Linked DNA regions of Homo sapiens. The protein of the gene in region 1 interacts with the protein of each later gene in a pairwise test. Each region holds a gene or a part of one and is shown in the gene's direction. Other genes may lie near its edges. The genes, in order: CISD2, SMIM1, NSG1 and SLC13A3.

Region 1 (7,023 bases):
CTTAACTATCTTTGTTTATGTCACATTTTCAAGAGTGAGGCGTTCAAGATAAATTACTGTGATTATCTAATTTATGTTTAACTTAGGTTTTTGTTTTGTTTTGTTTTTTGAGAGGGAGTCTCTTTTGCCCACACTGGAGTGCAGTGTCGGCTCACTGCAACCTCTGCCTCCTGGGTTCAAGCGATGCTTATGCCTCAGCCTCCTAAGTAGCCGGGACTACAGGCATGTGCCACCATGCCTGGCTAATTTTTTGTATTTTTAGTAGAGACGGAGTTTCACCATGTTGGCCAGTCTGGTCTTGAACTCCTGACCTCAGGTAATCCGTCTGCCTCGGCCGCCCAAAGTGCTGGGATTACAGGTGTGAGCCACTGCGCCCAGCCCTACCTTAGGTTTTAAGTGGTAATAGTAAACTCATGCATTGAAAATATTTTATCTTTTCTACAGTTAAGAAATAGAAATAATTTCTGTGTTTAGCTACATATGATAAATGAGAAAATATGTTATAAAATAACTAGCAACCAAGCTGCCAGTATTATTTTTATGGTATCATAAGATGATATGGCTATATTATATGTAGATGTTTGAAAATTTGAAATGGAAAAATTCTGTTCTAGTTCTGTGGAATGTAATTCCTCATTAAGATCGGAGTTTGTCTATGTCATTTTTATGTCATTTTATGTCATTTTTAGCTATTATTAAAAAATGTTTTAATAATAGTATTTATATGTCATAAGGAATAGGTGTCATAGCTAGCCTGTGTCACTATATATAATAAAAGGTTAAACCTAATTTTGTTTCCCAAAGAAGATACTTCATTTTGACAATGTCTAAACTTTCAGAAAATTTATGCTAAAATTGGTAGCTACCGTATTATTCCGTTTTCATACTGCTATAAAGAACTACGCAAGACTGGGTAATTTATAAAGGAAAGAGGTTTAATCCACTCACAGTTCAGCATGGCTGGGGAGGCCTTAGGAAACGTACAATCATGGCGGAAGGCGAAGGGGAAACAAGGCACCTTCTTCACATCATGGCAGGAAGTAGTGCCGAGCAAAGGAGGAAGAGCCCCTTATAAAACCATCAGATATCATGAGAACTCACTCACTATCACCAGAACAGCATGGGGGATACCACACCCATAATCCAATTACCTCCACCTGGTCTTTCCCTTGGCACGAGATTATGGGGATTATAATTCAAGATGAGATTTCAGTGGGGACACAAAGCCTGACCAAATCAGCTATTCAAGTTGCTTTGAAATTTTCTTTTCTGACTAGATTTTGGTTTTCTTTTGTGAGAAAGGGTTTCACTCTGTTGCCCAGGCTGGAGTGCAGGTGGCATGATCTCTACCCACTCATTGCAGCCTTGACTTCACAAGCTCAAGCCATCCTCCCACCTCAACCTCTTGAGTAGCTGGTACTACAGGTGCACGCTACCACACCTGGCTCATTTTTTTGTATCTTATTTTAGAGACGGGGTTTTGCCATGTTGCCCAGGCTGGTCTTGAGCTCCTGAGCTTAAGCTATCCACTCACCTCAGCCTCCCAAAGTGCTGAAATTATAGGTGTGAGGCACTGTGAGTGGCCTAGATTTTGTTTCTCTGATGGTGCTGGTTCTTTCATTCTTCCTTTTTGGTCCTGTTATTTATCTTAATAGTGGGATACGTGGAAGGCTGAGGCAAGAGAATTGCTTGAGTCGTGGCACTACATTCCAGCCTAGGCAGCAGAGCGAAACCGTCTCAAAAAAAAAAAAAAAAAAAAAGGGATGTAAAAGTCAATATGTATATTAGGTCCTTGCTCAGTATTGAGCTCAATAAGAAGATGAACAACTCACATTTAAAAATTGGCAAAACAGGCCAGGTACGGTGTGGCTCATGCCTTTAATCCCACCGCTTTGGAAGGCTGAGGCAGGCAGATCACTTGAGGTTGGGAGTACGAAACTAGCCTGGCCAACATGGTGAAACCCCGTCTCTACTAAAAATGCAAAAATTAGCCGGGTGTGGTAGTGCACACTTGTATTCTCAGCTACTCAGGAGGCCAAGGCAGGAGAATCGCTTGAACCCAGGAGGCAGAGGTCACAGTAAGCTGAGATCGTGCCACTGCACTCCAGCCTGGGCAACAGAGTAAGACTCTGTCTTCAAAAAAAAAAAAAAATTGGCAAAACAGAAAAATGAACAAAATCTTATCCTTTGCAGCAATATGGATGCAGCTGGAGACCATTATCCTAAGGAGATTAACACAGAAACAGAAAACCAAATAACACATATTCTTACAACTGGGAGCTAAACATTGTGTATTCATGGACATGAAGATGGCAACAGTAGACACTGGGAACTGCTAAAGGGGAGGGAGGCAGGAGGTCAAGGGTTGAAGACTATTGGGTACTATCCTCACTACCTAGGTGGGAGGATCAGCCATATCCCAAACCTCAGCATCACACAATATACCCATATGACAAACCTGCACATTTACCTCCTCAACCTAAAATAAAAGTCGAAATTATATTAAAATATTTTAAAAAGGAAATTTGGGCACACACAAAGGGAGAACACCATGTGAAGATGGAGGCAGAGATTGGGGTGATAGACCTACAAGCTAAGGGACACCACAGCTTCTCCCTCAGATCCTCCAGAAAGAATCAACCATGCTGACACCTTGATTTTGGACTTCTCGCCACTAGAACTGTGAGTGAATACGTTTCTGTTGTTTTAAGCTAAAAAAGAAAACGAAAATGCAAGCACGAACACATTGTTCTCTGCAGTTTAGGGAATCCTAGTAGAGACTACTGCTCACATTTGTTCTCTCTTCTCTGCTTTAATGGCCACTACCTTAGTTTTATCTCAAACTATTTTCTTCCAGACCATTTCCATGGATTTTCAACAGGTTGTCTTGCCTTGTCTTCTTCCACTAGCCCTCTCTGCTATTCCTGTGGCCCTCTAATCCATCTTCCATCTGATACCAGAGTGACTTCATAGGTGAACAATTTCCTAGTTAGGCTAATATTCAAATATTTCAGTGGTTTCCTATTATGCACAGGTTAGATTCTTACTTACCTGTTGAATATCAGAGTTTGTCATCATACGGCACCTGCTCAGTTCTACAGCTCCCTTTCATTAAATTCTAACAATACTATGGTGCTTAGTTTCCCAGACACTTAATGCATGTCATATCTCCGTACCTTTGCCTATGCAGCTTCCTCTGCATGGAATGAAGCTCCTCCTCCCATATTCCCATGAACTTCTGTACTCTTCATCTTTCAGAAACCTATTTAAGTATCAAAACCTGTACAGTTTTTGCTCATGCCAGTAAAAAGTGAATAACTTGTACCTCTGCGTTGCTTCTGTATTATTGCTGATAGTACACAGTATTATGATCGTCTTTTATAGGTCTGTCTTCCATACTAAATGGCAAGCTCCTTTCTAACAGGGAGTGTGTTTTATAATTTTTGTATCTTCAGTACCTGTCCCACCACCTGATACATGTGAGTGAGGTATTACAATTTTAGAAGGTGCTGAAAGTTTTTTTCTTAAATATTTTAAGTAGTCTTCCTGTATTTTAACTTACACTGTCATTATTCATAAGCCATGAACAAAGACAAGTAAGTACAGACCTTGTAGGAATTATCTCAAATGCCAGTTTATTGGAGTACAAACTCAATTAGGCTAAAACTTACTGAGGTCTTGGTTTATGTAAGTCTCTGTTAAAGGGTAGGGAGTTAGGGATTTTTTGTTTAGTTGGGGAGGAGACAAATATTTACCTAACTATATAGTTTTAAGGCAGAATGCATTAATAGTTTGAATTGTGTTCTGTAGTTTTTACTGAGTGGGTTCCTACTTCATTCGTTTCTCCCAGCAATCCTATGAAGTTAGAAGACTCTTTACTTTTCTTTGTGCCTTGAAAATTCTGCGCTCAAGTGCTTGAGCTCCTGGCTTCTCATTCGTTAGGTCTCTGCTTAAAGGTTCTTTTTTCAGAAACCTTCCCTGACCCCTTACCTAAAATTGCAGCCACCCTACTGCTTTGCCCCAGGTTAGTTTTTCTCTTATGTCATCCTTTATTTCCTTTATAACAGTTACTATAGTCTGTGATCATCTTGTTTATTTGTTCACTTGTTTATAGTCTCTGTCCTCTGAAATATATACCCTATGAGAGAAGGGACCTTATCTATTAGCCTGTATCCCCACATAGTGCAGTTTGTGGAGTGTGGTAGGTACTAAGTAAATATTGTTGAACAAATGAGCTTACAGTTGTTATTCCTGCTTTACAGACAAAAGAAACCTGGTTCCAAGTATATGAAAATCTGGATTTATACCACAGATAAACTGAATTAGTTGTTTACTGAAGTCCTGTTATGTGCAAATTACTAAGCACTGGTTACATAGATATAAATAAGACAGCTACTGTATTTGCATTTAGCACAGTATCTCTACATAGTAGGTGTATTAGTCTGTTTTCACACTGCTATAAAGGTAACTACTCAAGAGGCCAGGTGCTGTGGCTCATGCCTGTAATCCCAGTACTTTGAGAGGCCAAGGTGGGCAGATCATGAGGTCAGGAGATCGAGACCATCCTGGTCAACATGGTGAAACCCCATCTGTACTAAAAATACAAAAAAATTAGCTGGGTTTGGTGATGCACACCTGTAATCCCAGCTACTCAGGAGGCTGAGGCAGGAGAATCACTTGAACCCCTGAGGTGGAGATTGCAGTGAGCCAAGATCATGCCACTGCACTCCAGCGTGGTGACAGAGTAAGACTCCATCTGGAAAAAAAAAAAAGATAATACCCAAGAATGGGTAATTTATAAAGGAAAGAGGTTTAGTTGACTCACAGTTCTGCATGGCTAGGTAGGCCTTAGGAAACTTACGGTCATGGTAGAAGGGAGCGCAGACACCTTCTTCACAAGGAGGCTGGAGAGAGAAGAGTGAGGAGTGAAAGGGCAAGAGCCCCTTATAAAACCAGATCTCATGCGAACAGCATGGGGAAAACCACTCCCATGATCCAATCACCTCCCACCAGTTTCCTCCCTCAACATGTGGAAATTATGGGGATTATAAGAGGTGAGATTTGGGTGGGGACACAGAGCCAAGCCATATTATTCCACCCCTGGCTCCTCCCAAATTTCACATTCATTTTGCATTTCAAAATCAATCATGCCTTCCCAACAGTCCTCCAGAGTCTTAATTCATTTCATCATTAACTCAAAAGTCCACAGTACAGAGTCTCATCTGAAACAAGGCAAGTCCCTTCCACCTATGAGCCAGTAAAATAAAACATAAGTTAGTTCCTTTTAAGATACAATGGCAGTACAGGCACTGGGTAAATACACCTATTCCAAATGGGCAAAATTGGCCAAAACAGAAGGGCCACAGGGCCCATGCAAGTCTGAAATCCAGTGGGGCAGTCATTAAATCATAAAGCTCCAAAATGTTCTCCTTGACCCCATGTCACATCTGGAGAACACTGATGCCAGGGGTAGGCTCCCATGGCCTTGGGCAGCTCCTTCAAGGGCTGGCATCGAGTGCCTGCGGCTTTTCCAGATGCATGGTGCAAGCTGTTGTTAGATATACCATTCTGGGGTCTGGAGCAGGTAGCCGCCTTCTCATGGCTCTGCCAGGCAGTGACACAGTGGGGACTCTGTGTGAGGGCTCCAACCCCACATTTCCCCTTTGCACTGCCCTAGCAGAGGTTCTCCATGAAGGCTCCACCCCTGCAGTAGACTTCTGCCTGGACATCCAGGTGTTTCCATACATCCTTTGAAATCTAGGGTGAAGTTCCCAAACCTCAATTCTAGACTTCTATGCACCCACAGGCCCAACACCACATGGAAGCCACCAAGGCTTGTGGCTTGCTCCCTCTGAAGCAGTGGCTCAAGCTGTATGTTGGCCCCTTTTAGCCATGGCTGGGACACAGGGCATCAAGTCCCAATACTGCACAAAGCAGCAAAGCCCTGGGCCTGGCCCACAAAACCATTTTTTCCTTCTAGGCCTCTGGGCCTGTGATGGAAGGGCCTGCTGTGAAGACCTCTGACATGTCCTGGAGACATTTTCCCCATTGTCTTGGCAATTAATATTTGGCTCCTTGTTACTTATGCAAATTTCTGCAGCCAGCTTGAATTTCTCCCCAGAAAATGGGTTTTTCTTTTTTTTGGGGGGGCGGGGGGAAGGAGGGGGACAGAGTCTCACACTGTCACCCAAGCTGGAGTGCAGTGACACAATCTCAGCTTGCTGCAACCTCCGCCTCCTGGGTTCAAGTGATTCTCCTGCCTCAGCCTCCCGAGTAGAACTACAGGTGTGCACCACCATGCCCAGCTAATTTTGTATTTTTAGTAGAGACGGGGTTTCACCATGTTGGCCAGGACGGTCTCGATGTCTTGACCTCATGATCTGCCCGCCTCAGCCTCCCAAAGTGCTAGGATTACAGGCATGGGCCACCAGCACCCAGCTGGGTTTTTCTTTTCTGTTGCATCATCAGACTGCAAATTTTCCAAACTTTTATGCTCTGCTTCCCTTTTAAACCTAAGTTCCGATTTCAGGTCATCTCTCTCTCAAGTTTCATCAGTCTCTTGGGCAGGGGCAAAATGCCACCAGTCTGTTTGCTAAAGCATAGCAAGAGTGACCTTTGCTCCATTTCCCAGTAAGTTCCTCATCTCCAGCTGAGACCACGTCAGCCTGGATGTTATTGTCCATATCACTGTCAGCATTTTGGTCAAAACCATTCAATAAGTCTCTAGGAAGTTCCAGACTTTCCCACATCTTACTGTCTTCTGAGCCCTCCAAAGTGTTCCAACCTCTGCCAGTTACCCAGTTCCAAAATTGCTTCCACATTTTCAGGTATCTTTATAGCAGTACCCAACTCTCTGTTGTAGCAATTTACTGTATTAGCTTTCACACTGCTATAAAAGAAATAAAAACATAAAATAAAAATACTACCCCAAACTGGGTAATTTATAAAAGAAATAAGTTTAATTGACTCACAGTTACGCATGACTAGGGAGGCCTCAGGAAACTTACAATTATGGTGGAAGGG
Region 2 (7,706 bases), on another chromosome or scaffold:
AGGAAATCAATAAAGAGCTGACCTTTTTTTTTTTTTTTTTTTTTTCTGAGACAGGGTCTTTCTCTGTCATCCAGTCTGGAGTGCAGTGGGGTGATAACAGCTCACTGCAGCCTTGGCCTCCCAGGCTCAAGCTGTCGTCATCCCACCTCAGCCTCCTGAGTAGCTGGGACCACAGGCATGTGCCACCATACCTGGCCAATTTTAAAAGCTTTTTGTAGAGACGGTCTCACTATGCTGTCCAGGCTGGTCTTGAACTCCTGGGCTCCAGCAATCTGCCTGCCTTGGCCTCCCGAAGTGTTGGGAATACAGGTGTGAGCTACCGTGCCTGGCCCTGACCTTGATTTAGAATCCAAAATTAAGCAAAGGTCAAGGTCATGTATGGAGGCTTTTGAAGTCAGGTTCCCACCAGAAATGCCAACTGCAACTCAACTGCGTCCTCTTTCCTGCTTGAGTCCACCTCCTTCCGGCTGGGTCAGACTGAGGCACCCACCCCTGGTATCCCTTGATAAAACAGTTTGGGATCCAGCCGTAGTCCTGGTGAAAGCGTTAGACCAGAGGCGGTCTAGGTGTGTCCATTTGTGCGCCAGCCTGCACTGACCTGGTGGAGCCTGGAAAGCTGAGCTGAGAAATATTGTGAAGCTAAGTCCGGGTGAGCAGGAACTAGCGCCAAGCCTGATGGTGAGGCCCCACGGGTGTGGGGAAGTGAGGCTGGACACCCCGGGTAGCTGCCAACCTCTACCCTGGGGAGGGACCCCCAGTACAGAGGCCCAGCCCCTTGTGACCTCACGACCTCCAGCACCTGGCACGGTGTTTGTACAAAGTTGGGCGCTCAATAAATACTGGAAAGAAGGAAAGGATTCCACTCCTCACACAGGCCAGGGGCCCATGACATTCCTGCTGTCACTTAAACCTGTCCGAGCGGCAGTGTGGACATGCTTCCACTCGGAGGCAAGGCTGAGCCTCTCGGGCCCAGCTCCTGTGGGGCACCTCTGCGTCGTCAGGGTTTCTGGACGAGGAACTCGTGCTGAGCGTGCCGCATAACTCAAGGGGTTCCTGTCTGAGGCTCCTGGGGTGCAGATTGGAGGGGTTTCCTCTGCAGCTTCCTGGGAGGCACGATTAGCTACCTCTGGGGAGGCGGCTGCGGGTGTACAGGCAGACAAGGATCTTCATGGCAGCAGAAGACGAGAACGCCTTCTGGGTCTGTGCGCGGGGGCCAGGTTCAACGCTGCTGTCCATGGCACAGACACCTCCTAGTCAGCATGGAAAGGAGGAAGCACCAGCAGCGCACTGTTAAATGCCTAAAGTGAGAGTGTCCCCAAGGGCCAGGAAGTCCGCTCACTGCAGCTCCCCTGGGCAGTGGAGGATGGTCCAGGGGTTACGTGCGGCTTCTGTACTATTTTGGTTTGTTGGTTTAAAAATATATATATATGTGTGTGTAGGTTTTACTTTCCAATTAGAAAAGCCCACCTGGTGTAGGAGAGTCTTTGGGCTTTGGGGCTGGGCCGCACAGGGTCAGGGGTTGGATCCGGCACCTCCTAGCTCTCAGACAATCCACATTGACTTCTCTGACACCTGTTTCCAGTTTCTAAAGCCATGAAAAGTGAGGGTGAGCTGTTCCTTCCTGGTACATAAAAAATAAGGTGGTGGGGGGTGCAGCCCACTGGCCAGGTGCCTTCTTGGGTAAAGGCGAATGATAGTGTTGTCCCTTTGCTCACAGCTCGAGAGGTTAAGGAATAAGATCATCCAGGCCACCTTTAGCATCTCCGGGACCAAGTCCTTGGCCAACGAGATCTCTGACAATGACATCCTGGAAGCCCTGCAGGTATACCCCTAAGCTCAGCTGCCTCTATCCGGGCCCCAGACCCCCAGGCCAGAGCTGTGGTAGGGGGTTGTGGGGGGCCTAGATTCCAGGGACTCTGTTCTCATCCTACCTGTGTCACCTATTCACTTGGACCCCAGGACCCTCCTTTCTCTCAGCTCAGGCAGAGGGGATCAAATCATCCTAAGGCAGGTGGGGGCATGGCACGGGAGTCTTAGCTACTCTCAGCAAAACGGGGGACGGGCATCAGAGACCAGCAGTAACTGCCACAACCCATCCTGAGCGCTGTGGAGAGGGGACAAGCCGCTCAGGGCACGAAGATTCTCCCACAGCAGGAGCCCAGCCCCGGCTTTGTCCAGCTTGGTCCCCTCCGCTGGTATCACCACCCACTGATCCAGGGCCCTGGTGCAGACCCCTCCCACCCCGGCCACAGCCTCCTGGGCTCCTTCCTGACCAGGGGTCCCCAAGCAAGGGCCTCGGAGAAGTAGAGGGGTGTAGGAGAATTCAGGCCTTGGGGTCACTGGGCATGAGGGGGTCACCACCCACCAGCTGGGGGCCACACACTCACTTTTCTGAGCCATAGATGCCTCCCTCTGTGATGGACAGCGCATGCTCACCTGCAAGGTGTCGTAAGACTCAGAGCTCTGGGAGCCGGGCACCGGCTATGGCTCTGTGTGGGGCTGTGTACTACGAAGGGGTCACCTCTCACCAGGAGCTGCTTTTGTTCCCAAGACCCACACTTCACCCTCTGGGGCTGCCCTTGAACCCCAGTGTGTGCCCCTGACCTTCCAGCACCCACGTTCCTGGGGCCTGGTTCCCTTCCTCTGCAGAGTGGGGGGCCCTGGACAGTGCCTCTCCTGCAGAGCTGTAATGTGGAGAGAGGTCTCTGCGGCCTTGGTACTGTTGTCTGGGGGAGGGGAGGAGGAAGGGGAGAGAAAGAGGAAGAGAAGAGGGAAGACAGAGGATGGAGGGAGTTATTCCCACCGCACAGTAGCCAGGGAAGAGCACCTTTGCTTGCTTGCCATAGCCTGACATGAACCAGCAACGGCCCAGAGAGGAGAATGGAAGAGAGGTGGGGACAACATTCCCTCTGTACAGGACAGAAGGGACTTGAGGGACAGATGTGACGACCTCAAAGATCTCTAGGAGTCTGGGGCTCCTCACAACTCTAAGAGGGCTGAAGAGGGGGCTTAGTGCAGGCTTCTGCGGGCTGGTGGTGTGCACCTGCCCCCGGCTCCGCATTCTGTGACTTCACTTCCGTGGCTGAAAATCAGCCACTGTGGGAATATTCCCACCACAGAAACTGGCAACGCCACAAAGCCGAGGGTTGTTTGTTTTTTCTCCCCCTGGAGAGCCGGTTGTAAGTATTCACCAGCACACCCCTGCTGCAGCAAGCCTCTCTGGAGGAGGAGGAGAGGGTGGCGTCCCGGGCAGCTGGCACGGACTGTGCAGACCGGCCTCAAGGCCAAGGTGAGGAACTGGGAAGGCCACCTCGACGGCTGTGTTTCTTGTGTAGAGAATTATCTCAGAGAGAAGCGACTACTATAATCAGCTGAAGCAGAAAGGCGTCAAAGTGCCCCCCCTGCAACAGTCAGAGGCCTTCCTGACCAGCAAATCCAAGAAGGGGACCTCCAAGTAGGCCCAGCCAGGCCCCCAAATACGGTCAGCCCAGCAGAGGCCGGGGCCCAGCTCCAGAACCACCCGCCCCCACCATGCGTCCTGCTCTCAGACTCAGAATTAAACCCCGGTGTTGGCACTGTCCCACCTTTTTCTTCTCTGGGATCCACGCGGGGGCCTACTCTCCTCTGCGACCTTGAGCTACAAGGACACTCCCCATTCCAAAGCTCACTCACAGGGAGTCAGCACACCAGCCTGTGCCCCTAGCTCCTAACAGGTCCCCTTGCGGCACCAGGCTGCCAGAGGCCTGAGCCGGGGTGTCCGCCCAGCACTCAGCACAGACCTCACGCCTGAGCAGAAGGGGTCTGTGACCTTCTGCCCTGGGGGCTCTCCTGGCTGGGGCACTCTCTTGCTGGAGGACCCCTCTGGAAGATGGTGAGGGTGGGGGGCTCTGTTCCCATCCCCCCGCTCCTGGAAGGAAAGCTTTACGCACGGGAACGGTGTCTGTGGTCCCCGACGCTTCCCCGGCGCCTCTGAGGCTCTGGGCGCCTGAACACCTTCGGAAGGGACTCTCCCCATTACCCTTCTCTGCTCCCCACCCACACCTGCTTCCCTTCCCGCCGCGAGCACCGAGCGTGGGCCACGTGCGGGCGCCACGCCCCTCAAGCCCCGGAGGAGGACGGTCCCCGCGGCCGGGTCCCCGAACCCAGCATTCAGGCCCAGACGCGCCCAGAGCCTCCCGCAGTCTCGTCGGCGCTGCAGCCGGGTCCCCGCGGGGCTGGGAGGCTCGTGGCGTCGGAGGGGCTCCAGCAGGGGTGAAGGAGGTCGGGGACCCTGGAGGCCCCAAGGGCGAGCCGTCTGGGGGCAGAAAGTGCAGCCCTCTGCAGACCCTGCCCGGCCCCCCTGCACCTCCTGGCCCCGGGGCTGGGCGGCCTAGAGCCCCGGCCCCTTCCGGACGAGGCGTCTCCCGGCCCCACTCGCCCCGCCCCCAGCCCCTTCTGGACCAGGCGCCTCCCCGCTGCGGCCCTAGCCCTTCCCCGCATGGCCCCGCCCCCCTCTCGCCCCGCCCCCTCTCGCCCCGCCCCCGGCCCCTTCTGGACCAGGCGCCTCCCCGCTACTGGCCCCAGACCTTCCCCGCATGGCCCCGCCCACCACTCTAGCCCCGCCACCTTCCGGACCAGACACCTCCCCGCTGCTGGCTCCAGCCCTTCCCCGCGTGGCCCCGCCCCCGCCCTCGCCCCCTGCCCAGGCCCGGCCCCTGCGGAGCCCAGAGACGCGGGGACACAGGTGAGGCGCGCGGGGTCCGGGCTGCGGCTTCCCGGTGCGGCCGCAGTGGGCAGGTGCGACTGTGCGCGGCCTCGCTGGCTGAGAACTGGCGGGGGTGGGGGCGTGCCCTGGACTGACCCCCACCGGCCTAACCCGCGGTGCGGGGCCAGGGCCGGAACTGCCCGCCCGGCTCCTTGCCCGGCTCCTTGTGGCTGCTGGGGACCCCCGACACCAGCCACTTTCCCTTCCCGGCCCTTAGCAAGATCGGCTTCTCCGGTCACCTTTATTTTTTTAGGCTCGAGGCGTCTGCCGCACCTCAGCCCACGACCTGCCCCGCTGGGAGGTGCGGGCCGCTGGCCAGGCCCTGACCGCAACCTGGCCCAGAGGCCCCAGCCCTCAGGCAAGGTTCTCCGGGTAAGTGTGGGGCCCTGAGGCGCTGTGGGGTGAAGAGGTCTATGGAGGGGCGCCTGTGTACCTAGGGCCTTCCTGCACTCACAAGCCCCCAGGAGGTGCCAGGATCCGGGAGCCTCCCAGGGCCTGGAGGGGAGTCCCTGATGGGTTCCTGCCGCCACACCTGTGACCATCACATGAGTGTGGAGAGACGTTTACTGAGCAAGTGAGGGAGGCCAGCCTCAAGGGCCGGCTCTGGTGGCTGTGCACCGGGGTGACTTGGGAACAACGTGTTCTACGTCAGCAAGACAGGAACCCATGATCCCAGAGTTGAACACACTGGGCTTGACCCCTCCCACCGGGAGGCCCATGGTGGGCTGCTGCTGTGGACTTGGAGCCTCAGCACTCCCGAGACTAATGCTGCGTGGATGTCGGGTTGCAAGGCGGCTGCTGCAGCTCCAGCAGCTCCAGCCATCACGTCGAGTCTGGAAGAAGGAGGTGGCTGCTGCTGCTTTCACAGAAGCAAACTCTCCCATCCCCTGCTGCACCCTGGCTCCTGGACCCCAGCTGGGTGACTTGGGAAAGCAGGGGTGGTGGTATTAAGCTTGTCTTACCCGGGTCATGGCTGTTACCTGGGGCTGGCACATTGCTGCTGGGACCAGAATGGGATTCTGCACACCAGGCAAGAGGGCGTGAACCTCGGGTAGGCAGCTGACCGCTCCACATGCTCCGGGAAAACAGCACCCATACTCCAGTAGAGGCTGGGCCTCTCCGGGCCTGAGTGCCAGGCTGCACTGAGCCAGGGCTCCCACCGAAGGCACACTTTATGGCTTTGAGACAGCTCCTTCTGCCTCTCTGGGCTTTGGGGGAAGGCAGACATGGAAGTGCCGGGAGTCTCAGAACTGCCTGGGGCCTGAGTTTCTGAGCTGGCTTCTTGCAGGGGAGTGGCTGCTGTGCCTTTAGGCCTCTGTGCCGATGACCTGGGAGGAAGGTCAGCCTTCCCCGCTGGAGGGGGCCCAGCAAAGCCTCAGCTCCTAGAAGTGAGGGGCCTGCCATTGCCTGCCCGAGGACCCCACTCCTGGGGGCCAGATGCTGAGAGGGGACACTGGGGGCCCAGCAGACCAGAGAGCTGACCCCAGTCCCACAGCCTGGGTGGGTTGTCAACTTCTCGTGCCCCCTCCAACTCCTCCACCCCCACACCCCCTTAGGTAAATAGGAGGTCGAAACAGAGGCCAGAGGGTAAAGGAGGTGCTTAGAGTCCGGGCTGGCTCAGGCCGGCCGGGCAGCTGTGCTAGTGCTTGGAGTTCCTGCTCAGTCCCCGTGGTCTCCTCGCCCCTCTGGGCACTTGGGCTGCCAGGCACCGAGCTGAGTGCCGAGATGCAAAGATGAGTCCCAGGTCTGCAGGAGTTGGAGCCCAGCAGGGAGCTGGCCTTGGGGCCGGGCCCCTCCTGCTCTGGGCAGCCACCCAGCCCTACGACCCTCCTGTCTCTGTAGGGCCTCCCCAAGGCCTTGAATCCACCCCGGCCCCGTGCTCAGTGCATCATGCCCCCCAAGCCCCAGCCCTCCTAGAGGTGTGGGTGGGGGAGGGGCTGCAACCCACACAGGCTGAGGACACAGCTGCTGCCACTGCCTGGGGCCAGCCACGCATCCTCCCCAGACAGGGACCGGTCTAGCTGTACCAGCCGCTGCCCCGGACCTGCTGCCCTGCCCCACCCCCCCCTCCCCTGGCCAGCCTCCCCAGAGGCCAGAAGGCGCCTTATCGGGCAGGGTTAAGGAGGGGGACAGTTATCAGGGGCTGCAGCCTAGATTGGGCCACAATGTCCTCGTCTCTTGAGGGTGGCAGGCTGTGCAGGCTCCCTGATAAAAGCACCGGGGAAGGGAGGCTCCTGGAGTGTGCTGGAAGGAAACACTGGCCTCCCACATGCCTGAGGTCAGGGCTTGGCCTGAGATGGAATTCTCGCTTGGTCCCATCCTCCCGGCCTGACCCTGGGCAAATGACTCTACCACTTTGTGTCTAGGTCACCTGTTAAGTCAGGCGACAGACCCGGTGAGGGAGTCAGCCCCCGACCCTTAGTGCCCCTCTCCTAACAGCAGCCTCAGAGGGGGTCTTGACTGCCGCCCTCCATCCGCTTGTTTTACAGTGAAGCCACAGCCTGGCCACCTGTCTTGATCTCCCCACCGAGAAGGCCCCGCCCCTCCCGCTGCAGCCCCACAGCATGCAGCCCCAGGAGAGCCACGTCCACTATAGTAGGTGGGAGGACGGCAGCAGGGACGGAGTCAGCCTAGGGGCTGTGTCCAGCACAGAAGAGGCCTCACGCTGCCGCAGGTGAGGGGCCTGAGGGCAGCCTGCCAGCCATAGCAGGCTGGTGTCTCCCTCCAGAGACGCCTGCCCTAACCCCTGCTACCGGCCCCATCACCCTCCACCCCATCCTGGCTGGGAGCCCACGGTCCAGCAGCTCAGCAAACCGCAGCCTTTGGCCTTCCCTCTGGTTGGCTGTGGGCGGGGAGAGCTTCCTCTTGACTCCAGCAGAGCGCCCAGGCCCCTCCCCCTGACCCAGACCAACGGCCACAGTCCACTTAGGGGGCCCCTCATGCGGCCCTGGCCTGGGGCTCA
Region 3 (7,023 bases), about 98 Mb from region 1:
TCCTCATCCTCAGCAGTAGCCTTATTTCCCATTCATTGGCCAGTCTAGGCCTGCGTGCTCAAGGTCACATGGCTAGTTGGGTCCAGTCGGGGTTTGAGGATGGCAGGGTGACACCCAACCACTGCCTCAAGCAATGAGTGCCTCACAGGGGTGGGTGCCCAGGCCAACCCATGCCAGGCACCCCTCCCTCTCCACCGCAGGAGCACTGGGTGGAAAAGGAGTTGGGGTCAGAGGCCAAGAGTGTGGTTACAAGGTTTATGGCTCTTGGGATCATTTTTCAGTGACCCTGGAATGGGCTCCGCTGTTCTTTCTCCCCAAGGCTGGCTTTGGGGGTCGTAGCACCGGATGAGAGGCCCTCTGGCTGCCCGCCTGGGGCTGACCATCCCCAGTTGCTGGGGTCTCTTTGTTCTGTCCTGGTCCCCACCATCGTGGAGAGCAGGTGACGGACTGCCCAATGAAGGGGCCTCGTCCCTCGGGGGAGAAAGAGCTTGGAGGTGGCTGGCTGTCTCTAGTGCAACAGCCTCTCCTGGAACCTGGCTTGGGGAGCGGGGTTTGGGGATTAGAGACCTATAACACCTTGACCCTGCTCTTGAACACCTCCCAGTCCAGTGGGACAGAGAAGTAAACAGTCCCTGGCAACGGGTGTGGTGAGTGATGAAGGCAGCGCCGCTGAGGCCAGGGCTGTGAGTGTCCAGGGCTGGGAGGCTTCTTGGGTCCATCTGAAGCTGCTGGGGTGTAGGGCAGATGCAAGGGCTGGTTTCCAGGTTGGACAAACATCGTTCTGCTTCACAGTAGGGGGTGGAGGGGAATGAGAGCAGGGAGACCCTTTGGGGGCTGTGGCAGGGGCAGGGGGAGAGGAGGATGTGGGGGTGGAGACAAAGAGGTTGATCCTGGATCTGTTTCCAGACAAGCTGGTGGCCAGCTTCTCCAGCCAGTCCTGGAGGGCTGTGGACAGTACCCTCAGACCTCCTCTTCTTGTGCCCATGGTGGCACAGCAAGGCCAGTGAAAAGGCAGGTGCAGCCTCCCAGCTTCCTGGGCCAAGCCAGGCTTTGGCTCTGGTGGGTGGAAGGAGCACTGGGTTAGGAGTCAGCTGCCAGGCTGCATCCCCGCCCTGCCGCCTATAAACCGCATGACCTTGGCCAATGAGCTTAACTTCTGTGCCCCTCGGTTATAATATTTCCCTCCTGGGACTGCTATCAGGATTATGAATGGGTCATTTCTCTGAAAGTCCTGCCACAGAGGAGATTTCCAAAAAGTAGTGGCTGTTCTCGTTCTTGTGAATTTCTTCCTGGCAAATGGTGACTTTGAATATGGGAGTTCCCAGACCCACCCTCTTTGGGCAGATATGTCTGAATGCATCTGACTTTTGTTTCTCTGTTTCCTGGATAAGGTGGTCGTGAAAACTAAGACCGAGTATGAACCTGACCGCAAGAAAGGGAAAGCACGTCCTCCCCAAATTGCTGAGTTCACCGTCAGCATCACGGAGGGTGTCACCGAGAGGTTTAAGGTGAGTGGTCCTGTGCTGGGTGAGATGCTGCTTTTGCCCCCAGAAGGGGTCTGCTGAGCTGCATAGATGCCCTGCAGGGAGGGCCAGGGTTTGACGCCGTTTGTCTGGGCTCATCCCAGCTGTGCACACCCAGTAGCTTGTGACTGCCTGCCAAGATGTTGTCCTTGTGCTTTTTGTACATTTCTTTTTTCTTTTCCTCTTCCAAAATGATCACATATTACTTATTTTTATAACAGGGGAAACCCACCCACAAACTGTCTTTTAGGCAAAGATTATAAACATATGAAAAATCACTTACCAAACATTACAATATTTACTTAACAGTTCCAGGAAGGAAGCAGGCAATAACAAAAAGATAACGCACAGCACTGATCACATGCCAGAAAGGGGTCCCAGCCCTTTACCTAGTGAGCTCATCTGAGCAACCCTCCTGGCACACCAGTACTATCGGTATAACCCATTTTGCAGATGGAAAGGTTGAGGCACAGAGTGGTCACAGCTCTACACAGCAGAGCCAGGATCTGATCTGCAGGGGGTCTGGCTTTGGGCCTGTGTGTATCCTCCATCCTTCCCCCCATCCCAATGGGATGAAGGGGTGCTGCTGAGAGCGGGAGGGTTCCAGCCTGTCTCGGTGGGAGGAGCCTTCTTGCCAGCCTGGCTGCCTTCAGAGGCCACGTTGGTTGAAGAACAAGTTGGGATATTGATCAGGAAACTCATTCTTTGGGAAACATGAGAGAGAGAGAGTAAAGCGGTAGCCTCATCCAGATTCAAGGAGGTGAATTGAGAGACATCAGTGGGCCCCAGGCCTTGCAGAGTGGCCCTGTCTGGCTCTCTGGTCACCCTCCACTTGGCAGTGTGAGCAGTTTGCTTGTGCTGGGGGCACAGGGACTCCCACCCCCACCCGCTGCAGTTTCCAGAGCCCCTGTGGGTATGGCATCATATTGGATCTCTGTGACAACCTTGTGGATCACAGAAGGTGGGACTGGGAGCCATCCCTGGTTAACAGATGAAGCCAAAACCACAGAGTGACTGGGGAAGCCAGGGCGTAATCTGACTTTCAGTCCCTCCTTCTTCCCGTTGCCACACACTGCCTGTCAGGGCCTGCCTGGTCCAGCGGGTCCCATGAGTGTTGCTGTGGGGCAATTACTTGTGTCAGCTCAGCAAATCCTCCCAGCAGCCCTCTGCCTGCTCCCTACTAATAGTAGGTACTATTTGTATTACCAGTGTTACAGATGGGGAAGTCGAGGCACAGAGCAGTCTGTGTCTGTCCCTGCTGGTATGTAAGGATGTCGTGTGTGCCGAGAGGCTCTTTTGGTGGCTCCTGGCTCGGCCCATCGTACGTTTTTGAGGTTCTTGGCCAGGACCAAGACATACTGATCCGAGGTCAATACCTGTCTTCTGCGCTGGCCAGTGGGATTAGCGCGTGCCTTATCTGCTGCCACTCACCTGTCCTGCCCCATTTGCACCCTGGGTTTGGCTGCTGTCCCTGGTTGAGGCAGGAGTGGCCTTGATTTCAAGGTCATGGTGTCCTCTGTCCTGATGGCTAAATGCTGTGTGATGTCTGAGTGTGTCTGGGTTTCTCAGGCCCCACTTGCCCTTTGCTTTCCCAGCCCCGGCGTTTTAGGTCCCCACAGAGCAGGGCGCAGTGCGGCACTTGAACAGCTATTCCTTCATCTGTTGAGTGTCTATGATGTGCCAGCCTCTGTCCCCGACCTCTGGTGTTCTTCATTTGCACTTTTCCCACATGACCACCTGAAGCAGGTCCCCAGGTCTCTTGCCTAAGGAATGGGTGATGCATATTTGCCACCAGGGCCCTTGGCAGCCTTGGCTGGGACTCTGTGGTTACCTGGCCCCTGTTGCCCAGAACCTGAAGGCTCAGAAGACCATGGGTGATTATGCTCATCCCAATAGACTGGCTGCTGGCAGCAGAAGCCCTGCCTCATCTCCCTGCCTCTACCTCCTGTGGCTGTCTGAGAAGGCGATGTATGCAGTAGGTGCTCAGTACATGACTATACTGGACTAAGTCTGCTGGGTGTGTTCCTCTGCTTAGTTTTCTTTTCCTCCTTTATGATTCACAACTGCCCTGAAGGGGTGGCATCGGCCCCTTTACACGTAAGGCTGTTGAGTCCCAGGTGGTCCCAGGGTGGCTGGGGTGCTCCCTCTGTGACTCTCTAGCTTCAAAGCCAAGGCCTTCCCAACATACCTTGCACCACATCCCTCCCCACTCCCATGGGACGCCTGCTGCTTCCCAGACCCCATCCCTTCCATCTCCTCCCAGGGCAGGTGCAGATCACACCTCTGCCAGGAAGCCTCCTGGGTCACTCTCATTTGCAACAGACCTCACCGCCCTGTTTCCAGTGCCTTTTGTAGCCAGGCTGCAATGGCATCTAACAGTGACGGAGTGATCCATGAGCTAGACTCTGCTTCACACTCCTAATGCTCATATTGTCTCATTTAATCTTCATAAACACCTCAGGAGGTAGGCGCCCTTATAGCTCCATTTTACATAGAGGGGAAACTGAGGCAGAGAGCCTTGGCAGCCTGCTCTTGGCTGTGGCACCAGAGGTCCTTGGTTTCTTGGAGAAGTGGGTTTGTGTGGGAGCACTCACCCCAGGCGCCATCGCTGTTGAGCCATTCCACTTCTTCAAATCCTTTTCCTTTGTTGATTCAAAACCCTTGCTCTGCTGCCTTGAGCCACACAGAATGTGCGGCGCCCTCCTTCCCCATCCCCAAGGCCTTCAGAGACATGGCAGGCACAGGTACCCCGGAAGCCTCCCCAGTGTACAGCTTCTTTTTCTCTTGTGTCTTTCTGAGTCCTGGTTTCCACGCTCCCTTCCCCCAGGTGCTCTCTTTTGAGGGTCTGGGTTGGGCTGTCTTCTCTTTGGGTGTGAAACCTGTGACTGGGTGTCCTGGCAAGGTCCATTGGTGTGGCCCTTCCAAGCATAGGCCCCCTCGACCTGAACTGGTGACCCGAGGAGGGGAACAAGGCCATGGAGACCCCCTGAGCCAAGAATGTCAGCCAAGAATGAATGCTTAGGGACTCTTTGTGCAGACGGAACTTACTCATCAGCCGCTCTATGCCAGCCATGGTAAGAGCTCCTTGATATCATCTCTCTGGCGCTTCTTGCACACACAGTAACAGCTTGATAAGTAAATGGATGACTAATTGTGCTGCTGGCCTCCCATGAATGGGGTACTTGGCGAGATTTCCTGGGTCTGCCCGTGGGTCCTTGCTTGTTGAGTAAGTTCAGCTGGCAGCTCATTGGATTGAAGCCTCTCTCGGGGCCATGCTTACGCGTAAGCCTCTAACAGGTGATGCCTGTCAGCTCTCACCAAGTCAGACAGGTGACCTGCTCAAGACCACACAGTCAGTGAGTGGCAGAGGCAGAGTAGGAGCTGGGCAGCCGGCTCTAGAAGCCTGTTGCTGTGGCATACTTCAGCCCACTAGCTTGCCCAGGAAGCCTGCAGGCTGGACTTTCGCAGCTGAACAACTTGCATTCTAAGGGCATCTCTTCTCTGTGCCTGCTCCGAGCCCCTTCTCAACTGGGAAGGAGATTTACCTAGCTCCCTGCCCACTTGCTGTGGGGTGGATGTGAGAGGCAGCCTCCAAAGTGCTGCTTCCCCAGGTGTTTCTGGAGCCACCTGAGTCAGCATCACCTGAAGTTTGATTTTAACTTGGACCCTGAACCGCAGGGAGATGCGTTTTGACAAATGCTTTCCAGGTGATCCTAATGTGTCCTGAGTTTTCGAGCCTTTCCGATGGGGGTGCATTCCAGCACAGAAGCTGGGAAGGATGAGGAGGGCTGGTGCTTTTTGGGAATGCTAAGGGTGCCCACCTTTCTGGAATGTTCTCCCAGCTTTTTATTACCCAGTTAGATTTCTGGCATCCCTGAACGCGTGCACACAATGAGGCGTGTGTGAAGCTGCAGCTGGTTGAGGGCTGGGCGGGTCTCTCTTTCTGAAACGGGAGCATATGGGGAGCAGGCTATGCTGGAGACACGGGCATGATGGAGGGTCCGCAATAGAGATTCACCCTCCCTGGCTTGTGTACCCCCCTGCCAGGGCCCAGTCGAAGCTGTGGTTGGGACAGAGCATCTTCCTCGTCCCACTAGTGACTGGACAGCTTCTGTGCAGCTCCCTGGCCCAGCCATCATCTTAGCTCTTTCATCTCCATGCATGAATTGCAGGAATGGAATCTCGCCTTTCCGATCTTGAAGTGACAGGTAAATCGTTTGTCCCCTCCTCTCTCCAATTTGTGTAGCTCAGAAGCACCTCATCTTTATAGGCGTTTGGATGGCATCCTTGAAACGGAGTGTCTTTTTGCATGCAGCTTTCTGATTGTCACTTGGGGATTAATCTCTTGGCTGTGAGGTTACTAGGCTGGTTGCTAGGTAACTGCTGACTGGGAGAAGGTTCTGAGAGACTCCGCCACACGGGATGGCAGGAGGACTCCCCCAGCGGCGGCCAGCTGCTTGGGCTTCCAAAGAGGTTCTTGTCAAGGAAAGCAGTCGCTTAATTAACTGGAGGCATATTTACAGTGAGAATAAACACTGGCTGAGATGTTTCTCAACCAAACCTAAACATTTTTGAAATTGCACTTCCCCACTGATGCCTGCAGAGTGGCGGGTCGGGGCTGCTGGGGCCGCTGCTTGCAGTTCTCCTTCCGGTCTGGAGACTGTCATTAGGGGCCGTCATCAGACAGGTGACAGGAAGGCTCCCTCAGGGCCCGCTCCAGCCCTTCGTGCTTCGTGATTCCGGTGATGACCGGTTGCTGACGCTGGAGAGGTCTCCACACCCTGTTTGCCTGTGATGTGAGGTCAGGTTTGGGTGGTCCAGCCTTGACCCTCACCGGGTACCATGTCACCCTGGGGCCTTGAGAGATCTGAAGGTCGGCTTTGCACGGGAACACCTTTCACCGCCAGCACAGGGCTGGGGAGTGACTTGGCAGGAGAGCCCTCGTTAGTCTGCGTGGTCCCCCTGGTTGGCAGTCCAGACTCTGGTGGGGACGTCCCTCTGCATCCTGTCGCAGAGGACTCTGTGGGTGGTTTGTGTCTTTTCTTCACATCCCTAATGACCTTGAGCTTCCTGCGTGCCCATCTGTTTCCACATTCTCCAGTAAGCCCCTGGTGTGTTCCCTAATGACCTTGAGCTTCCTGCGTGCGCATCTGTTTCCACATTCTCCAGTAAGCCCCTGGTGTGTTTCAAGATGCATTTCTTAAATATTTATGAAGAGTGATGCCGTTTCCTTGGCATTCAGCAGTGGGGGTGGGGGTTCTTCCCGTGGGGGTGGTATTGGAGACCCTGAAGGTGTGTGTGGACGCCCCCTCACCTTTAGCTATGCGAGCATCTTGTAGGATCCTGGGGCTGTGGTTGCAGAGCCCACCTTCCCCAGGCTAGCTGTAGTGTGGGGGCTTCGGCTGAATCAGATACCACGTGGGTTCAGTCATCTGTGTGTGTGTGTGTGTGTGTATGTATTCACTTTTGTGTGGGTTACCTAAAATATTTAGTGCTGTAA
Region 4 (7,023 bases), on another chromosome or scaffold:
TCCCAGGAGGCAGGCCTGGCTCTTTGGAGGACCTTCGCCTCCCTCAAAATCTCTGTTGGCATACCTGAAGCCTCCTCTCCCATATAACAATATTTATATGATTGTCATTATTAGATTCTCTGACATTAAGAACAGACGTGTTTCTCAATTTCATATACAATGCGAATAAGAAGTATCCTTAGAAAACATCATCATCTTTATTGATCTGGGACACACATTTAATCCATTTCCCATTTAGAAAAAAAAAAAGTGCAGCTCACTGCCAGTGCAGTATTCTCGGTGCAAAACGGGACATGGGTTAAAGCAAGCACAGTAGGTTTGTTATGCACATGGAGCTTCAAGACAATTCTGGTCATCTTCACCAGTCACTCCCTGTGAGAGCCTCCCCAAACAGAGGCTGGTGGACTAACTTCAAAACATGCTTGCTGGGCAATTCAAGACAGGCGTCCTCAGCGTCCACTCCAACATCAGATTGTCACTTCTCAGCCTCTTCCACATGGATATTCTGGCGCCATGAATGCAGGTTGTATTGTATACATGGATCACTAACAACTTGCGAAACTGCAGATATCACATCAGGAAAGAAGTTGGAGATGTTCAGTTATTTGTCATTTACCAGGCAGTGTGGAGTAGGAGACAACCCCTCTTTGGGGCCTGGGTTTCCAGCTTGATGACATCTGTCCACTGCTGCTTTGCTGTTCTAGGAGTCTGTGTGTTAAGAGGGTTGGTTTTCATGCACCTGTTCCTGGTGACTGGTGAGCTTGTCTTCGGGGAGGCTGGAGTCAATCTGCAGAGCAGAGCTGGAAGGAACAATTCTTACATTATGTCCTCTGGCTCAGAAATGCTGTCAGCAGGGATGAAAAGGAGTGGGATGAGCTCTGGAATGCATGGCTGCCGCTTCCAGCACCACTGGGGATCCTAGCTCTTGCTATGAAGAGTGCTGGGGGCTCAGGAAGTTGGGATGCTACCCCAGGGACTACATCAACGTTTTCCAAGAATGGCCATCCTGCGAGTTAGAGGTTTGGGGAGTGATCTTAGCTAGTGGGCACAGATGGGACTCTTATTAATAAAACAGGCTTACAAATAAGCTCCAGCCCCACTTGTTTGCAGAGAAGCCTTACCCCCTTTCCTGCCTTATGCCCCCTGAGAGCAAATTAAATGATACTGACCACCTGTCCAAGAGGAGTTCTTAACACTGGGGACTCACAGGTGACTCTAAAGATGCTCTGAGAAGGAAGAGTTTGGGGATGCTCTCGGCAAGGCTGCTACAGAGTGTTGTGCAAGCTGTGCACTGCACAAGGTGCTTGAGGAGGCAAGTAAGGCTGAACCAGCCTGCATTCCACATGCCAAGCTGTGCACCCTGGTGCACAGCTGGATCCACCTGAGGAAGGGCCTTTTATTCTAATTTGCACAAAGGTGTCACGGTGGCCAACAGCAGACTTACTCTGGGATAGAGATATTTGGGGGGGATGGTAGTACACCTGTAAGGTCAGAGGCCCCCTTTCTTGCATTTGCCTAATTTGTGGGCAGGTAGATGACCAGGAAGATGGTCCTTTCATTCCCAGTTTTGAGGCTTTGGAATCAGAACTGCATTCGCATTCCACATACTTGCTGGGCAAGTCATTTTCTATTTCTGGCCTTGGTTTCTTCATTTATAACACAGCCATAATATTATATTCTTTCCCAGTTATTTTCTGGCCACAGTGAGTTAATACATTGTGCCTGTACTATAAATTCTTAGTTTTTTATTTAATGCTGAAAATATGTTTTAGTTCTCCTATTTTGCAGATGATGAAACTGAGGCTCAGAGAAGTTAAATGTTGGAGAGAACATGGGCTTTAGAGTTGAGAAAACCTGGATTTGTGTCTGGCTCTGAAGAGGGGAGCCTGGGCTGGAAACCTTGAATTTCTGAGGCTGAGTCTCATTTGTGAAGTGAGGAGGACTCACACCCTCTCATTCTGTTACGAGAATTAGGGGAAGATACAGGAGGTGTCCAGAGTGGTGCTCAGCATATAGTGGGAGTTTATAATTAGAGCAATAGCCACAGATTTTCTCACATTTACAAAATGCTGTTTTACATGCATCTCAAATTTCAGCTCATTTACTCTTCACATCAGATGTAGGAAGTTCAAACAAAAATTATCCCCATTTTTAGAGATGAGGAAAGTGAGGCACAGAGAGGTTAAATTCCAAGGTCACACAGCTACTAAACACTACTTCGGTCACTCCTCCTCCTTCTCTCTTAGTCCTGGATTTTGGAAGTGAGAGCGGCCAGGAAGTGAGAGAGGCCCTTGAGTTTTCCCCAACAGAGGTTTTCCAGAAAAAAACTGCAAGTCCAGCTCTGCGGATTGAGCACCTTCTCTGGCCAGACACTGCCTGCTGATTTTACCTTCTATCATCTCATTTGAGCCTCAGGGAGCTCAGACAGGGAGTTTTCCCCCATGCACCCCAGAATGGAGTGAATCTGGTTTGGTTTCCATCATCCAAATACCACTCACATCATTTTTGCCAGAGTCCCTTACCACTCAATATTATTTACTTAATTACATTCCTGTTATTCTTTTTACATTAATGTCTTACTGCCCTCTCCTTTTAAAAAAACTTAAATGCAATGACTTTAAAAGGAGATTTTCTGTGGGTATCATGTATGGAAAACCAGGATCATCACTGATGATTAGGAGAAGAAAACTAGCAATTGATAGGTAAATATTTAACGCTGATTAATACTGGGTACATACTGCCTGGTTGAAGCTATGGGCCTGCGATCTGCCCTCTCTTTGTTGCAAGGGGAGGGATATCATCAAGTGAGGCATTAAAGACAAACTAGTACCAAACTGAGACTTTGTTTTGGAAATAATGAGAAGGAAAGAAGGATTAGAAGGGAGGTAACCTCATTGTTCCACCCAAAGTCTTCTGGAGTTGGCTTTTTATGCTTCAAGAAATACTGGACCCATAGCCTGGAAGCGTGTCTTGTCTGGGGATGCTGAGGTTGACTGATAGCCCCAGCTCCTCAATTTCCTCATCTGTACATGGATGGCCTTCTTGCCACCATGAAGCTTGGTGAGCTGTTAAGTAAAGGAAATCTCGGGCATGTGGCTGGCTGAATAGTGACCCACCAAAGGTGTCGGTGTCCTAATCCCCTGAACCAGTGAATGTTACTTTCTATGGAAAAAAGGGACTTTCCAGGTGTGATTAGGTAAAGGATCTTGAAACAGGGAGATTATTGTGCAGTATCCAGGTGGACCTGATGTAATCCACAGGCGGCTTTCTGAGAGGCAGGCAGGAGAAGTTGAAATCGGAAGGTAATAGGATGATGGAAGCAGAGGGAGAAAAAGCAATGTGATGTGGGGCTGTGAGCTGAGGAATGCAGGTGGCCTCCAGAAGCTGGAACAGGCAAGGCATGGATTCTCTCTCCTGGAGCTTCCAGGAGGAACCAGCCTGGCCAACACCTTGACTTTAGCCTAGTGAAAATGATTTCAGAATTCTGGCCTCCAAAACTCTAAAAGAATACATTTGTGTTTCTTAAGCCACTCCATTTGGGGTCATTTGTTACAGCAGCAAGAAAAGATGAATACATGGCAAAACCACCCCACCAGACTGGTTCTCCCAGGAGCGGCTGGGAAGTTTAGCCCCATGTCTCCCTCTGAATTTTGATGCATCAATTGTCCATAATTCCCAGATGGGTCCCATCATGTGGGCCCCATGTTCCTGGGATGCAAACCCTGGTGTTCAGGAGAGAGCCTGGCTTGGTCAAAAAGGTTCCAGGCTTTGGATTCATTTGGATATGAATTCATCTCTAGCCTCTGCCCTGATGAGCAGTGTGATGCAGGAAGAGTGTCTTCACCTCTCTGAACCCAGTTCCCCAGCTGAAAAATGGAAATGTCCACAGTCCTTTCTTCACAGGATTTTACAATGAATAAATAAGTTCATACATGCAAAATGTGTGTCTCAGAGGACATGTACATTTTATTTTATTTTTTTGGCAATTTAACCTTTACACATGCTTTTCTGGTTGGGATCTTTGAAATTGATTTGGAAAAAAAAATGGGAGATGCTGGTAGCATTTGGTGCAAAGGACTATGTTGAAATGGTCAGTCCCGTGCCTCAGTTTTCTCATCTGGAGATTGGGTCTAATCATCGTTCAACCTCATACTGCTGTGGGGAGGAAATGGGTTCATATGTTTGAGGCACTTACTGGAGTGCTGGCTTATAGTTAGCACTTAGTAACTGTCAGCTATTAATATTACAGTTGCCATCGTAAACTGGTGCTCATTCTAGTTTAACCCCCACAAAAAGGAAACTGAGGCCCAGAAAAGGAAGTGAATTTTCCAAAGGCTTCAGTGAGGGGCAGGGCGGAGATGAGCACTTCCATCCCCCTCTCCAGGGAGTACCCTGTCTTAGGCATTGGTCATCAATGTTTTTATTTTAATTAATTAATTATTTTTGAGACAGGGTCTTCCTCTGTTGCCCAGGCTGGTGTGCAGTGGCATGATCCCGGCTCACTACAACTTCTGCCTCCTGGGCTCAAGTGATCCTCTCACATCAGTCTCCCAAGTGGCTGGGACTACAAGCACACGTCACCACGCCTGGCTAATTTTTGTATTTTTTGTAGAGATGGAGTCATGCCACTCAACTGGTCTCAAACTCCTGGGCTCAAGCTATCCGCCCCTCTCAGCCTCCTAAAATTCTGGGATTACAGGCACGAGCAACTGTATCTGGCCTCATCAATGTTTTATGCTAAAGACATTTCATTTAATCTCTTGACAGCTAACTTCTAGATGACAGGTGAGGGGGGTCAGAGGTCAAGTTCACTTATTTCTATTCAGATCGTAGCTAGCTCTCAACAAAGGTTAAGGACAGCTCATGTTTACTGTATGTTTATTAGGAGTTCTGGTCCCCGTTTCCTTGCTGATCCATCTTCCAACCCCACTCCACCTCTCATGCCCTCTGCTCCCAGCGCTCTGGCTTTCTTACTGCTCCTTAAATATCCCAAGCTTGCTCTCATCCCAGGACCTTTGCACTTGCAGCCCCCTCGTTCTGAACCTCTGTTCTCCCAGATGTCCGCAAGTCTTGCTCCTTCCCTTCATTGATCTCCGTTCAGATCTTACCTCCGAAAAGGCCGTCCCTGCCCCTATCTTTAGACCCTATCTAAAATAGAAAATGAAAAATCCTTTACACTCCATTCTGCCTTATTTTTCTTCACGGTCTTTATCACTACCTGGCAACGTATTATGTTTTAATTATGTATCTGCTGGTGCATTATCTATATTAACCCCCTTCCCCCCTTCCCACCCATGGGGTATAAGCTCACAAGGGCAGGGATATTTTTTTTTTTGTCCTGCTTACCATTGTATCTTTGGTGCCAGCCCCGTGCCTGGCACATAGTAGGTGCTCATAAGTATGTCTCGAATAAGTGAAAGAAAGAATGCCAGTTGTGTGCTAAGTTCTTGGCATGCATTTTCTCATTAATCCTCACCATGACCCCAAGAAGGAGCTACTACGATTCTCTCCATTTGCCCAATGAAGAGCCCACGTGCAGACAGGAGGAGACCCCTGCCCACATTAGGCTGGCAGATGGCGGCAGATGGCGGCAGATGGTTCTCAGGCTGACTTCCAGACTCCTGCTGTCGCCTATCTCCCCTGGCCCTTTGCCTCCTGCAGAAAGTTGCTGACCCTGGACACTCCGGGAATAATCAGAGGCTAATTCGAGAGCCAGGTTGGCAATCCAGGGACAGGGACAGGCTGTGACTCACCGTAAAGCTCTGGGGTCAGGCTGACAAGCTGGGAAGGCTTCTTGTCTCTGGTTGGCTTTGCGCTTGGACTGGATGTGGTAAGATGAAGAGAGGAAGGAAGGGTGCTCCTGGGGAATGGGAAGCGCAAGAGGCCAGGAGCAGGAAGAGTCCTGAGCAGGGGGAGAGGGCAAGGAGTCATCTTCCCAACTCTAGATGCAGACTTCCAGTGCACAGCGACCCAGGAGGGCAGAAACTGGCAAAAGCAACCATAGACTGAGCACCTACTAAGCGCCAGGTGTTATGCTGGGTACTTCACATGCATTGCAGCCAATGCTTAGAACATCCAGACAAGGGAGGCCTATGAGGAGGCACCGAGGGTCAGCACAGTGCAGTGTTGTAGCCCAAGGTCCCCAGCTGGTGAGTAGAATTTAAAATGACACCCATGCTCACAGCTGTGGCCCCAGGGCCCTGTGTCATCCAGCTCCTGCCCACCTGTCCCCTTGTGTCTGTTTTAATGGTAATGGAATTTGTTTTATTTGGGTATGATAAACACACAGACACAGAAATCAGCATTATCAAAGAAGTTTTTATACTCAGATGGCCCTAGAAGCAGGAGGCATACCATGCCACACAGGGCCACACAGGGGAGCAGCAGGGTCTGTCGGGAGGCAGAGGGAATAAGAGGAAACGTGGGCATGAGCCTTTACTGTGGGCAATATGTTCGGGCAAGGCAGGGTGTGCAGGTTTAGGACTGGCTAGTTAGTTTGAATCATTTCAGTGGGTCTGGGGGCATAGGGGCTTCCCCTAGTTGTCTTGTACCTGGCTCTGGGGTGATTAGGGCAGGTGGATTCATGTGAGATCCCTCAAAAAGAGGTGGTAGGGAGTATGGGGTCTCGATTGGTTGTTTCACATATGAAGGAATGCTTGCAGGCTAGTAGTTTATTCTTTCTAGGAATTTGCTAGCCCTGGGAAGGGGCAGTCCCTCCAGGGTCTCAGAGCCTCAAATACAGAAATTAGAAAACCTGATTTTACAACTTCCCCTGCCCTTGTCTTTTCTCACTGTGCCCCAGCCTCATGTGCCTTCTTTTGGTTCTTCAAAGCTGCCAAGCTTGCTCCTGCCTCAGGCCCTTTGCACTTGCTTCCCTGGACCATTCTTGCCCCAGATCTTCCACAGCTGGGTGCTTCTGGTCATTTAGGCCTTGGCTCCAATGGTACCTCCTCCTAGAAGTCCTCCTGCTTCTCAAGCACACCTGCCCTCTTCATCCCACAAATCACTCTCTAAAACAGCCTT

Evidence for each region.
Region 2: the proteins of CISD2 (region 1) and SMIM1 interact in binary tests that used the Homo sapiens proteins (3 or more experiments, as listed by UniProt).
Region 3: the proteins of CISD2 (region 1) and NSG1 interact in binary tests that used the Homo sapiens proteins (3 or more experiments, as listed by UniProt).
Region 4: the proteins of CISD2 (region 1) and SLC13A3 interact in binary tests that used the Homo sapiens proteins (3 or more experiments, as listed by UniProt).

Annotation. Positions count from the first base shown.
Region 1 is NC_000004.12:102,871,990-102,879,012, forward strand, and holds part of CISD2 (CDGSH iron-sulfur domain-containing protein 2), read left to right. Parts: intron 1-7,023. UniProt on the Homo sapiens protein: Regulator of autophagy that contributes to antagonize BECN1-mediated cellular autophagy at the endoplasmic reticulum.
Region 2 is NC_000001.11:3,768,066-3,775,771, forward strand, and holds the start of SMIM1 (small integral membrane protein 1), read left to right. Parts: upstream 1-4,683; 5' UTR 4,684-4,723; exon of another isoform or gene 4,724-4,997; 5' UTR 4,998-5,116; intron 5,117-7,233; 5' UTR 7,234-7,308; coding exon 7,309-7,418; intron 7,419-7,706. Other genes in the region: CCDC27 (coiled-coil domain-containing protein 27), read left to right, coding at 1,718-1,822, 3,336-3,458. UniProt on the Homo sapiens protein: Regulator of red blood cell formation.
Region 3 is NC_000004.12:4,390,084-4,397,106, forward strand, and holds part of NSG1 (neuronal vesicle trafficking-associated protein 1), read left to right. Parts: intron 1-1,391; coding exon 1,392-1,508; intron 1,509-7,023.
Region 4 is NC_000020.11:46,641,460-46,648,482, reverse strand, and holds part of SLC13A3 (Na(+)/dicarboxylate cotransporter 3), read left to right. Parts: intron 1-7,023. UniProt on the Homo sapiens protein: High-affinity sodium-dicarboxylate cotransporter that accepts a range of substrates with 4-6 carbon atoms, such as the citric acid cycle intermediates succinate and alpha-ketoglutarate (2-oxoglutarate), as well as other compounds including N-acetyl-L-aspartate.